Linked DNA regions of Homo sapiens. Changing the gene in region 1 together with any one later gene gives a genetic interaction. Each region holds a gene or a part of one and is shown in the gene's direction. Other genes may lie near its edges.

Region 1 (7,213 bases):
CTTTGAACAGAAGAAGCGTGAAGAAGAGGCACGACTCCTTGAAACTGGAACTGGCCCCTTACATGATGAGAAAGATGAATCCCTGTGTCTGTCTTCTTCCTGCGAAGGGGCTGCAGGCACCCCGAGGCCTGCTGGAGAACCGGCCTGGGTTACTCAGTTTGTGCAGAAGAAAGAAGAGAGGGACCTGGTGGACCGACTAAAGGTGAGACCTGGGGTATCCGGAAGTGGGAGTACTGGAGGAAACAGGGCTTCAGCGATTGTTCTGGGGCGATTCCGAGACTCAGGCAGTGCATGCTCCCCTGCCGTTGCCGTGCCTCTCAGCTCTTCCCTCAGCTCCTTGGGTCTATGGTGCTGCCGCTGTGCTGTCTTTTTTGAGCTGGAGGTCAGCAGGCCTTCTCCACATAAGGAACTGTTGGTGCCCATTTATTACTCACCTGGGAAAGGACCTGATCATTGCCATTGGCAGCATGGTTCAATGGCTGCAAATGGATCTGATGGAGAGCGTGTGGCTTTGGGAGGAGTGTGCCGCCTTCCGCAGTGAGCAGCGAGGCTGGGACCGGCAGGGATGAGGTCCCGGGAGGGGATGCGGCAGCCCTTGAGTGCTGGCCGGGGAAGGAGAGATGCCCCCAGTGAGGAGGCGCCGGGCTGAGTGGCCCAGACTCCTTAGGAGAGGCCTGGTTTTGGGCTTCCTTGGTGATTTTCCTTCATGTCTGCCTCCTGTAGGCGGAGCAGGCCAGGAGGAAGCAGCGAGAAGAACGCCTGCAGCAGCTGCAGCACAGGGTGCAGCTCAAGTATGCAGCCAAGCGCCTGGTGAGCCTCATTTCTTGGGGGGCAGGATTATGTCCAGGCAGGGTTGCTCTGCTTGGAGGCTCATGGGTGCGTGGTCAGGGCCTTGGTCTCCCCTCCGTGACCCTCACTGGCTATGTGCTCCCGTACAGAAGCTGGGCTGTGAGTGGTTGAGGCGTGGATCCTAGGAGTCGACCTCTCTCCAGCCAGGCAGCCAGGCCTATGTGAATGGGGCGTGGTGTGCTTTGTCTCTGGCATGTGGGGAGGTGGGTACTGGTGCTGAGACTTCTTCCTCCCTCACCACCTCCACTACCCCTGTCCAGAGGCAGGAAGAAGAAGAAAGAGAGAATCTCCTCCGCCTCAGCAGGGAGATGCTAGAGACAGGCCCGGAGGCTGAGCGGCTGGAGCAGCTGGAGTCTGGGGAGGAGGAGCTGGTCCTCGCCGAATACGAGAGTGATGAGGAGAAAAAGGTGGCGAGCAGGTGAGACAGAGGCGGTAGCACTACCCTGCCCCAGGCCAGGGGACACCCTTGAAGACAGCTCTTTCCCTCATGCCACAGATGCCATGAAGCACCTGGCAAGAGGCATGGTGGCCTCTGCCCTCTGCTCTAAGCCGGGTCCTTCCTAGGGTCCATGAGTGCCAGTGGCAGTGAGGACAGTCACCGGCCTGGCCTGTGTCCTCTCAGCTGTCCTCACGGCAGCTCAGGCAGGGCAGGAACATTTGTGTCTGCGCCTTATACACAAGGAGGCTGCAGCCCCACAAGGAGAGACTCCTTGGCTGAGGCCACAAGCCTCGGCAGTGGAGAGCTGGGCTAGAACTCAGCTGGCCTGGCTCTAGATCTCAGGCTCTGAGGCAGCTGACTGCACTGGGTAACCTGTGAGGTGCCAACCATCAAGGCGTCCTTAGCCTGAGCTTTCCTTCTCCCATAAAGCCTCTGTTGGTCCAGACTCAAGGTTTCCACTTGATGAGCCATGAGCTGCTGGGTGACTTAGCCCTGAGCAGGCCACCCAGGCCATTTCGGGCCCACAGGATCCCTGGTCACAGCCCTGTTCCCATTCACACTGGAACCTCACCACCATCCCTGAGTGTCTGCTCTGAGTATGGCACTGTCCAGATGCTGTGGACATAGAAGGGAAGAAGACATGGAGGGGACAGTTAATAGACATGAAAACAAATAGCACCTATGTGAAGTCAGCATGTTTGCCTACAAGGAAAACAAAATGGTGATGTGGATGGGGTGGGGGGCTGCACCTGATGATGAGTCCCGTGTGTCCTGTGACATCCTGGCCACCACATCTGTCGGAGGGTAACTGCAAGACCAGAGACCCTCCATGGATATTCCTGAAGGTTCATCCCCGGCCTTCACAGTCTGTCTGCAGGGCGCCTTCTGATGCCACCTCCAGCCGCCATCCACCAGACGCCAGCTTCCCCGCTGCCCTGAACTTCCTCCAGCGCACCAGGCCTTCCTCTGTCCTGTCTGAGGATTTGCTCATGCAACGTGCTGTGGCCAAACACCCTGCCCTCCTCCCTTGGCAGATGTCTTCCTCTCCTTTAAGGCCTGGCTCAGGTGTCGTCTTGGTGGCTTCGGGTGTCAGCTGCTCTGTTTTGCTCATGCACCTGCTTGTGCTTCTGTTGTTGCCTCCTCTCCCTGGCTGGGCTCGAGCTGCTTCAGGGCAGGAACCACGTCTTTATAGTTTGATGTTCCCAGAGCTGACCCAGTGTTTGGCATAGGGGTGTGCTCAATAAAATCGAGTTGACATGAATGAGCAGATGCTGCCTCGTTGCAGTCTGGTAGTGTAATTCCAGGCTGCGCATGTGAACTTCGACTTCTGCCCCTGCCCAGGGCAGAGACCACCGTGTTGCTTTATGCCTCGCTGGTGAGAGGGGGTCATAAACAGTTTGTGCTCCATGAACCCTTCCTGCCCGCCTCCGAGGTCATGTTTCTGCTCCCTCTCTTCTCCCTTAGAGCCCGTGGGGACAAGGCAGAGAACTTGAGTGGAGATGGAGGTGGTGAATATTAAAGGAACAAAGTGCTCCTTCAGGTCTGGGCAAGAGCCATGGATCCTGTAGGTCAGCTTCTGGGGCTTCCCATGCCCTCACGTTTCAGGAGATAACGTGAGCCTCGGAGGACCTGAGTTCTGAATAGAAAATTTTTGCTCTTCATTTCTTCACACACCCAGCCTCTCAGTGAGCTCCTGCTGGCTTTGTCCAGCATGCGACATAAGATTGAATCCAAGCCTTTTAAGATAGAGCCGCCTGCTCTTTAGTGACCATGAAGCCAAGCCTGTAATAATTACTCTTCTGATAGCCCAAGACAATTGTATTCTGTTTTGTTAGAAAGGAATTTCGAGGTGAACAAAAATGTTTTCTTTTTATGTGATGTTGCCATAGGTAGCGTGTGCCTGTCAGATGGTTTTGTGTTTTCTGAGGAGCATAGACTAGTAGAGCTAGCTCAGCTTCAGGCCATGGGATGCAGGGCTGGCTTCCCTGCCAACGCCTGGCGCTGATGGATTCTTCCCGCATTGCTGGGAAGGGCAGACTGAGGCACTGACACAAGAAGAGTTGTAGCTGGTCATAAGTGACAGCATCCTCTGTTCACTCGATTGGTCAGTTGTAGCTTCATCCAGGAGATGGTCATGGGGTTCCTGCTGCATACCAAGCTCTAGGTGAGGCCACGGGGACTCAGCAGAAACAAGGCCGACCTGGGTCCTCCCTTGTGGACATGACAGTCTGGGGAGATAGACCGAGAGGAAGCGATTTTGAATGAGATGGGTGTGAAGAGCAGGGGCCATGAATCTGTGTCAGAGCAGCCAGGCCTACCAGGGAAGGTCAAAGAAGGCTTCCTGGAGGAGGTGATGTTTCTGCTGCTATCTCAGAGTTGACTGGGAGCTGGTGAGGGGAGACAACATTCCAGGCACAGAACATCCGAAGGCCTGAGATGATGAAGAGCAAATATCCGCCCTGGGGCCTCAGAGGGGTCCAGCTTGCTGGAGGGAGGGCAGAGAGGAGAGCAGCCTGCCATGAGTCCCGAGGCTTCCGACTCAAGACTTGGGTTGGGGGTGCTGAGCCCCTTTCTCCTTTTTACATTTCCCTACCCACAGACCTGAGCGGCCATGGGAGGTTGGGGTTGGCATTTGCCTGGGGGAGTTTCTGAGCGAGCAGCACCTGCTACCTTGGTGGAACCCATTGCTGGGAATGGCCAGGGCTCAGCACCAGCGCTCAGCAGATGCTCAGTGCGTTTTGCTGAGTTTGCTGAGGGAAGACTGTTTTCTGTTCTCTCTCACACACACAGAGTGGATGAGGATGAGGATGACCTGGAGGAAGAACACATAACTAAGGTAACACAAGTGTCCTCAGCTGGTGCTGTGCTGGGGGTATAGGCTGGGCTGTGCACCCCTGGGGAGGAGGCTGGAGTCACTTGGCTACTTCTCACCCTCCTCTCCACAAAGGAGGAGCTTCCAGCACTTGGACTCCGTTGCTTCTTGCACACAACCCTGGTCCTAAGTTGCTCCCTTGGCCAGCTGCAGTGGACCCTGGAGTCCTCTCCTGGGGTCAGGGCCTGGGGAGTCCTCTCCTGGGGAGACCTTTCCTGGGAACAGGGACCTGAGGAGACCTCTCTTGAGTTTGGGGCCTGGGGAGACATCTCCTGGGTTCGGGGCCTGGGGAGACCTCTCCTGGGGGCAGGGCCATGCTTGCCACCCCAGGGCATCGAGGAACAGCTGTTCTGGGCTGAAATCTGGGTGTTTTCTGTCCCTGCTGGGTGGTACGGGTAGGACAGACATGAGTCCCCTGCCCTTTGGGTCTCTCATGGTGTGCTTCTCCCTTTGTCTGTGTTCCCATTTGCATGGAGGGCTATGGGTTGTGTATGGTCTGACATTTCCCATTTGGTTTCATTGATTTATGACTTGTTTTCTGTCGGAAGTAGGTATTTTCTTTGTATTTTCTTTTTTTCTCCCTTCACTCTTGCCTTAGAGGAGTAGAGAGAGGGTATTCTGGTCAGCCTTCCTTTTTCCCTTTGGGGATGTGTGTGACACACTCCCTCCCCTCCCACCAACAACCCACCCTCCCCAAGTGGGGACCCTTTGCCACGGGAGATGGTCACCCATGTCCAAAGATTGGCCAACCCCCCAAAAGCGGTTGATTAGAGGCTGGATATGACTCGTGGAAGGAGCTGCCTTTGGGGCATTCCCTTGAACTTCTGGAGCTGTGGGTGACTTGGGAATCCCTGGGTCCCTCGATAGATGCCTGACATGGGACATTGCTGTCCTGCCTCGGCTTTGTGCATTGGGAGCCACTCCCTTTCCCTCAGCCTCTCAGGCCCTGGCGTGCCTTGATGTTAGAGAATGCTGTGGGATGTTTTGGTTCTCTCTTTGAAGCGCCTTTCTTTCTCTCTGCTAGATTTATTACTGTAGTCGGACACACTCCCAGCTGGCCCAGTTTGTGCATGAGGTGAAGAAGAGCCCCTTTGGCAAGGATGTTCGGCTGGTCTCCCTTGGCTCCCGGCAGGTAAACAGTAGCCAGTATTTCCACCAGGGGCCATCCTGCTCCTTTCGCCACAACTTTGTCCTGCTCGTCCAGGCCTTGGGAGACGCTGGGTCTGTGACAGGCTGAACCGTGTGAGGAGCAGCCCCCTCCCTGACCTGGCCGGCCCAGCACTGGAAGGCAAAGGAGAGGTGGCGGGGCAGGTCCACGTGTGTTGGTAGGATGTCATTTAGCTGGCACCATCTTTTTGCCTCTTTCTTTCTCCTTTGCTGCAGAACCTTTGTGTAAATGAAGACGTGAAAAGCCTAGGTTCTGTGCAGCTTATCAACGACCGCTGTGTGGACATGCAGAGAAGCAGGCACGGTAGCCACTGGGACCATGGTGTAGCCGCAGGTGGTCTGGAGAGAGTGAGGCAGGGGTGGCAGTGACTGAAGACCATTAAGTGTCTTTCATAGAAAGAATGGCAGAGGAGACCCCAGTTCCTTCCTGAGTCCCCTCTCCTTGGGAAAAAGTGTTCCTACTCTCTGGGTCAGTGTCTGGTCCGAATCCTTGGCTTGGAGATGATTTTACGGGCTCTTTCTGGAGAACAGAAGTAAAACCTTACAGTGTTCCGATGAGACCACAGTAGGCAGTACTTGGGAGGGTCTTATAGACCCTACCCCATGGAAGTGGGTCTCAACATTACACAACCCCCTCTTGGGCCCGTGGACAGTTGCTGTCCTCTCTGTTTTCTCTCTTTGTGCCTGTGCCACCCTCAGAGAAGAAGAAAGGAGCTGAGGAGGAGAAGCCAAAGAGGAGGAGGCAGGAGAAGCAGGCAGCCTGCCCCTTCTACAACCACGAGCAGATGGGCCTTCTCCGGGATGAGGCCCTGGCAGAGGTGAAGGACATGGAGCAGCTGCTGGCCCTTGGGAAGGAGGCCCGGGCCTGTCCCTATTACGGGAGCCGCCTTGCCATCCCTGCAGCCCAGGTGAGGGCCCTGCAGGGCCAGAAAGCCGCTCTTGACTCTCACTGTGGTCTAGGCCATGAGGGGGGTCCTCATCACACTGTAGTTTGGGGGATGCCCCCCACCGTGGTCAGGTTGATGGCACCTTAACCCATTCTCTCCTGATGTGTGAGTTGGAGGAGGCGCGTGGGATCCCTTGGGGTCTCCAGGCAGCAGGGCCAGTTGGCATTACTGGGGATGGTATTTAGGAGCCAGGAAAGCCGGTGCATTCCTAGTGAAACCACAGGGAGAGGGGGGATGCCAGGAGCTGAGAAGAGTGTGCTGCATACATCTATTTACAAATGGCTTTCCAAGTGATGCTCCCAACTTCCATGCCTATGATGTGATGGAGGATGTCAGTGATAGAACCATTCAGTTTTCCAGTTTTTCCTTTTTGTAATATCAGTACTCTTAACTGGAAAGCTTTCCCTAACTTACACCTACCTGCAGCACGTGAGAATACTGTCTTCTCTGCCTCAACTTCTCTTGATTTTTAAACAGAAGGAAGAACTGCTAATGTAGCAGATCAAAAGTAGTATCTCACTGTTATTTGGTGGGTGCAGTTTCACTATTTCCTTGCTACTTCTTTAATTTGAGTGACTTTGGAAACGGGATATCACTAGTGGAAAATTCTGTATAATCCAGAAAAAAATGTAAGGTTTTAAAAGATTCAGGGAACTAAGTAACCATTTGCACAGCAGCTAAATGCTCACCAGCATACCTGCTGAGCTGTGTGGGCACTGGCAGAGAAACTGAGGAAAGCTGCCAGGCCCCATGGTGTCCCAGGCCTTCCCTCCCGTCTGTTTGCCTTTAGAGCAAGATTAGTGCTATAGGCATTTATACACAAATACCATAATATGGCCCAAAATCTTTACAATTTTTGAATTTTTAAAGTACTTTGACCATATTTTGCTTTTATGTTAATAGTATTCCAGTGAAATTCTGTGCATGGGGACACTGGAG
Region 2 (5,358 bases), on another chromosome or scaffold:
AGGCAGAGGTTACAGTGACCTGAGATTGCACCATTACACCCCATACTGGGTGACAGGAGTGAAACCCTGTCTCAAAAAAATTATTTAAAAAGCATAGTATTTGCATATAACCTACATACATCCTCCCATATGCTTTAAGTCATTTCTAGATTACTTATAATACCTAATACAATGTAAATGCTATATACATAGTTGTTATACTGCATTTTTTTTAAGTTGTATTTTTTATTGTAATGCTGTTTGTTTTGTTTTGAGACGGAGTTTCACTCTTGTTGCCCAGGCTGGAGTGCAATGGCGCGATCTCGGCTCACCGCAACTTCTGCCTCCCAGGTTCAAGCAAGTCTCCTGCCTCAGCCTCCCGCATAGCTGGGATTACAGGCGCCAGCCACCACGCCCGGCTAATTTTTGTATTTTTAGTAGAGATGGGGTTTCACCATGTTGGCCAGGCTGGTCTCAAACTCCTGACCTCAGGTGATCCGCCGGCCTCCCAAAGTGCTGGGATTACAGGCATGAGCCACCATACCTGGCCAGTGCTGTTATTTTTTATTGTGGCATTTTCCAAATAGTTTTTGATCCACTGTGGGTTGAATCCGCAGGTGCGGAATCCGGGGATACAGAGGGCTATGTTTTTAATTCAGAAAAATACATGGCTTATATGTCATAAAAGGTAAAACTGCAAGCAGTCATTCTCTTACCGTGTTTGGCTATTCTGTTCCTTTCTTTTCTGATAACCAATATTATTACTTTTTCGTATGTTCTTATATGAGTAATGCCAATATATATATATGTAGATTTTCTCACTTATCAAGTATGCAAATGTATGTATATAAAATGTGCTTTAAAAATAGAGACAGATAATAGACTAGAGGTTACCAAGGACCGGGGAAGGAAAGAACGGGGAGTTATTGTTTAATGAGGACAGCTGTGGTTTCCAGTGATTAAAAAAAAAAAGAAACAGCTCTGGAAATGGACAGTGGTGATAGTTGTACAATATGCCAATGAATTATACATTTAAAATGGTTAAACTGGTAGGCTGGACATGCTGGCTTATACCTGTAATCTTAGCACCTTGGGAGGCCTATGTAGGAGGTTTGCTTGAGTCCAGGAAGTCCAGGCCAGCCTGAGCAACAGGGTGAGACCCTGTCTCTACAAAAAATACAAACATTAGCCAGACATGGCGGTGTGCACCTGTAGTCCCAACTGCTGGGGAGGCTGAGGTGGGAGGACCACCTAAGCCTGGGAGGTGGAGGCTACAGTGAGCCATGATCGTGCCACTGCACTTCAGCCTGAGTGACAGAGTGAGACCCTGTCTCAATTTAAAAAGAAAAAAAAAAAGGGTTAAGCTGGCAAATTTTATGATATTTCTATTTTATCACAATATAAAAGTTTTTAAAAATGTTTTTGAAATTAGAGGACTATCCTAAAAAATAAAAATAAAGTTTTATATTTTAATCTACTTAATTTCAGGTGTAGTGGCTCACAAGCACTTTGGGAGGCTGAGGTGGGCAGATCACTCGAGGCCAGAGGTTTGACACCAGTTTGGCCAACATTGCAAAACCCCATTTCTATTTTTCTTAAAAAAATTTTTAAAAATCTACTTTAAAGCAAGTAGCTGAACATAAAATAAGGTTTTTTGAACTAAGAATATAATCTACACAGTGGCTTTTCATATTATTCATTGACTGCAAACCTTACTCTAAAATTTAAAAATATTTTAGTTCTTATTTAAAATTTTTCAACATTCTTTGCTTTCTCTTGTATCGTCTTAGCAGAGAGCAAAGAGGGGAGATAACTAGAAAATGTCTATCAGTAATTATCACCTGATTGCTTGATGACTTGGACCAAGGGTCTGAAAACTCTGGCTGTTTTTGTATCTAACCCATTGCCTGTTTTTGCAAACAAAGTTTTATTGAAAACATTCATGCCCACTCATTTATTTGTCTGTAGCTGCTTTCATACTACAGTGGCAGAGTTGGGTAGTTGTGACAGACTATTTGACCTTCAAAATGAAAAATATTTACCACCTGGCTGTTTACAGAAAATGTTTACTAGCCCCTAATTTAGATGATGGCTAACGTCTGTTTCACCCACACCAAACTACTGCCATAGAAAACATTTAGGAATTTGACAATCTTGCTTGAAATATTTACTTAAAATTCTGAAATAATATCTGTTTTTTGTAGTTCAAACTTCTCATGGAACATCTGGACCCTGATGAAGAAGAAGAAGAAGGGGAGGTTTCAGCTAGCACAAATGCTCGGAACAAAGCAATTACCTCACTGCTTGGAGGAGGCAGCCCTAAAAATAATACAGCAGCAGAGACAGAAGATGATGAAAGTGATGGGGAGGATAGAGGAGGAGGCACTTCAGGGGTGAGGCGGAGGAGGAGTCAACGTATTTCGCAGCGTATTACGTAAAATGATTTTTATGTGCTTATATATGTCAGTCTATTAAATGTACACCAAGTAATGTAATACTTAAAAGAGAAAACATTTTGTAGATAGAGATTCTCTACTTACCCGTTTATACATCCTTTTGTAGAAAGTTTAACATAAAAGACAATAAAAAAACAGAAATGAGATTTATCCAGCATAAAGGGTTAATTTTTCTTTGAATTGTATTAATGTGTGTTATTTTTATTGTTGCTAAGTTTTATGTAGCTATATGGTTCATATGTATATATAATTTTATATATCAATAAGAGTAAAGACACGGGTACAAATTAAGAGTTATATGGTTTTACAAGTATATGTTAACCCCTTGGCGCTGGCGGTCACGGTGCGTCTCATTGCCGGCAATGGAAGTGTGCCGGGAAATCCCAACTCCCGGCGTCAAGGGATTAAAAGCAATAAAAACAATAATTTCACTAAAATTCTTTTGTGTAACACTTGGTCTTTTTTCCCCCCTCCCAATGTTTTAGTCATTGAGAAGGTCAAAACGAAATTCAGACTCTACGGAGTTGGCAGCACAGATGAATGAAAGTGTTGACGTCATGGATGTCATCGCTATTTGCTGTCCAAAGTACAAAGATCGACCACAAATTGCAAGAGTAGTGCAGAAAACCAGCAGTGGCTTCAGTGTTCAGTGGATGGCAGGCTCCTACAGTGGCTCCTGGACTGAGGCTAAGCGCCGTGATGGCCGCAAACTGGTGCCTTGGGTAGACACTATTAAAGAGTCAGACATTATTTACAAAAAAATTGCTCTAACGAGTGCTAATAAGCTGACTAATAAAGTTGTTCAGACTTTACGATCCCTGTATGCCGCCAAGGATGGGACTTCCAGCTAATGAATTTGTACATGCAGCCAAATTTACAGGAATTTTTTTAAAAGGCAGAAAAACTTGAAATACCAACATTCTGGCAAAAAAAAATCAGTTTTATGAAGAGTAAGTGGAACCTGGGATGCAGGAACAAAAGAAGGAAATGTTGGGCAAACATTTTTGTGGGAGCTCCCTTCGCTGTTGTGCAGCAGAAACAGATTCTCAGTTCATTTTTACTCCCACTGTATTATAGTTTAACAAAAATTGTTTATATCTTGGAAAAAAAACTTTCTGTTTAAAAAAAATAAACAAGTGAATGTTGGAAATTAGTCTGTTAATGTTCTTAATAAAGTGTTCTTGGAGTTTAACCTAGCAGCGGATGGCTTTCTTTAGCTTAGCCCAGTTTCCAGGGAAGCATTGTTTTTTCCAGGCTGTAAAATGGCAGAATCTCCTGGATATATAATTTATTCTGTTGAAAAAAAAAAAAGCATGCAGTATCTATGACCTATCTGCAGAAGGAGTTTTTGTAAATGTAGATTTTGATGTATTAGGTCACCCTGAAAACAATACAAGAAAAGGGATCCCCAGGTAATCTGGTGGAGCGAATACTGCAATAAATTTTTTTACTTCTCTTTGTTACTTGTCTGTTTCCATTTGAATTTCTTATTGTAAAAATCTGTTTAAATCCATTTATATTATTTTACAGTCTTTTATGTAAAATTTATTATATCACTGGTTTTCAAAGCAAAACATAAAATATTGTTTATACAGTTTGTATAGGCTGACTTCTGAATAATTGGTATCTATTATTTTCATTCCCATAAGAGGGTGTAAACAATTAACTCCAGGGTTTTATTGTATCCTGCAATATTTAGTATTAACTATATATGATTTAGCACTGTGCCAAACACATTTTCAAGAGTACATTTTGATATAAAAAGAAACTATAGTTTATTCCTTGTATGCTTCAATTTCTTTCTAGTGATGTCATGATGCTGATATTTATTCTTTAAACCTCGGGTAAAGGTAACCTGTTATTTGGAAAACCAGCATTTCTCTTGGTTAAAATGATGTCCGGTTATTTTAGAACTAGAGTTGAGATGAATATGACACTTCATAATTACACTCACTACATTTTTCACAAATTATTTTTTAATGCTGAAAAGAGTAATTTTACTTGTTGAGATGTTTATTCATTTTCTAATCTATGCTAAAAGCTTTTATCATAAGTCTTGGGAACAGTTGTCATTTACACATTACTTACTGCAGATATCTTGACTAAATCAGGAGGGAGGTGTTTAATCATTTGATATGTATAGTTGACACTCAGGAATAGTAATGCCTAAAATTTACAGTGGATGAGGTCTGTTTCAAGTTTAATTCTTTTTAAAAATGTTTTACTTATTTTTAAATCACTTTGAAAAAATTGACCTCCAGAATGCTGTTTTATGAAATTGGCAAATAAATGAAGGTATTCAATTTTTGAGGAAGAATGACATTGCCACAAAATACCTTTTTGTGACACCTATTAAACCACTATGAAAATAACTTTTCAGGATCTATTTCCTATGTGGAATTCTTTCAAATGCTTTCTTCACGGAAATGTTTTCTCACTCTTCGTTTTGTTCCCCTTACTTACATGTTTCTCTTTTCCTTATACTGTGAACTCTGGAACAAAACTAGATTGGGTTGGTTGGTTGGTTGGTTGGTTCTTCTTGGAGTTTATGTATATCAACAAAGGATTTGAGGTCACTTCTGAGAATAATATATCAAAAAGGGTACTGGTTAGAGAAAATATAAGAATAAAATCCAGCCCAGAGAGAGTACTAAGAATGTAAATGTGAGTAAAAAGCCAGTTTTGAATTCTATTTACGTGACAGTGATGCATGCTGTCATTTAATTCTCACAAAAACTCTCGTTATATATTTTATCCTCATTTTGTAGATGAGGATAGCAGGCTTAGAAGGATTTGGTAATTTACTAATGTCATGATAGGGATTTAAATCTGGAATTGAAGTAATTGTGTCTCACTACTCTAAGCTAATTGAACATCAGACATTAAGAGAGATGATCCTTATTGAAGTAAACCAGTTCCTAAA

The links.
Region 2: changes in DDX11 (region 1) and NIPBL are lethal when combined (synthetic lethality), as found in Homo sapiens cells (one study listed by BioGRID).

What each region holds. Positions count from the first base shown.
Region 1 is NC_000012.12:31,083,860-31,091,072, forward strand, and holds part of DDX11 (ATP-dependent DNA helicase DDX11), read left to right. Parts: coding exon 1-202; intron 203-723; coding exon 724-810; intron 811-1,109; coding exon 1,110-1,267; intron 1,268-1,273; exon of another isoform or gene 1,274-2,353; intron 2,354-2,366; exon of another isoform or gene 2,367-3,452; intron 3,453-4,078; coding exon 4,079-4,124; intron 4,125-5,184; coding exon 5,185-5,292; intron 5,293-5,543; coding exon 5,544-5,631; intron 5,632-6,026; coding exon 6,027-6,235; intron 6,236-7,213. UniProt on the Homo sapiens protein: DNA-dependent ATPase and ATP-dependent DNA helicase that participates in various functions in genomic stability, including DNA replication, DNA repair and heterochromatin organization as well as in ribosomal RNA synthesis.
Region 2 is NC_000005.10:37,061,607-37,066,964, forward strand, and holds the end of NIPBL (nipped-B-like protein), read left to right. Parts: intron 1-2,183; coding exon 2,184-2,372; coding exon of another isoform or gene 2,373-2,417; exon of another isoform or gene 2,418-2,920; coding exon 2,921-3,286; 3' UTR 3,287-4,807; downstream 4,808-5,358. UniProt on the Homo sapiens protein: Plays an important role in the loading of the cohesin complex on to DNA. Forms a heterodimeric complex (also known as cohesin loading complex) with MAU2/SCC4 which mediates the loading of the cohesin complex onto chromatin.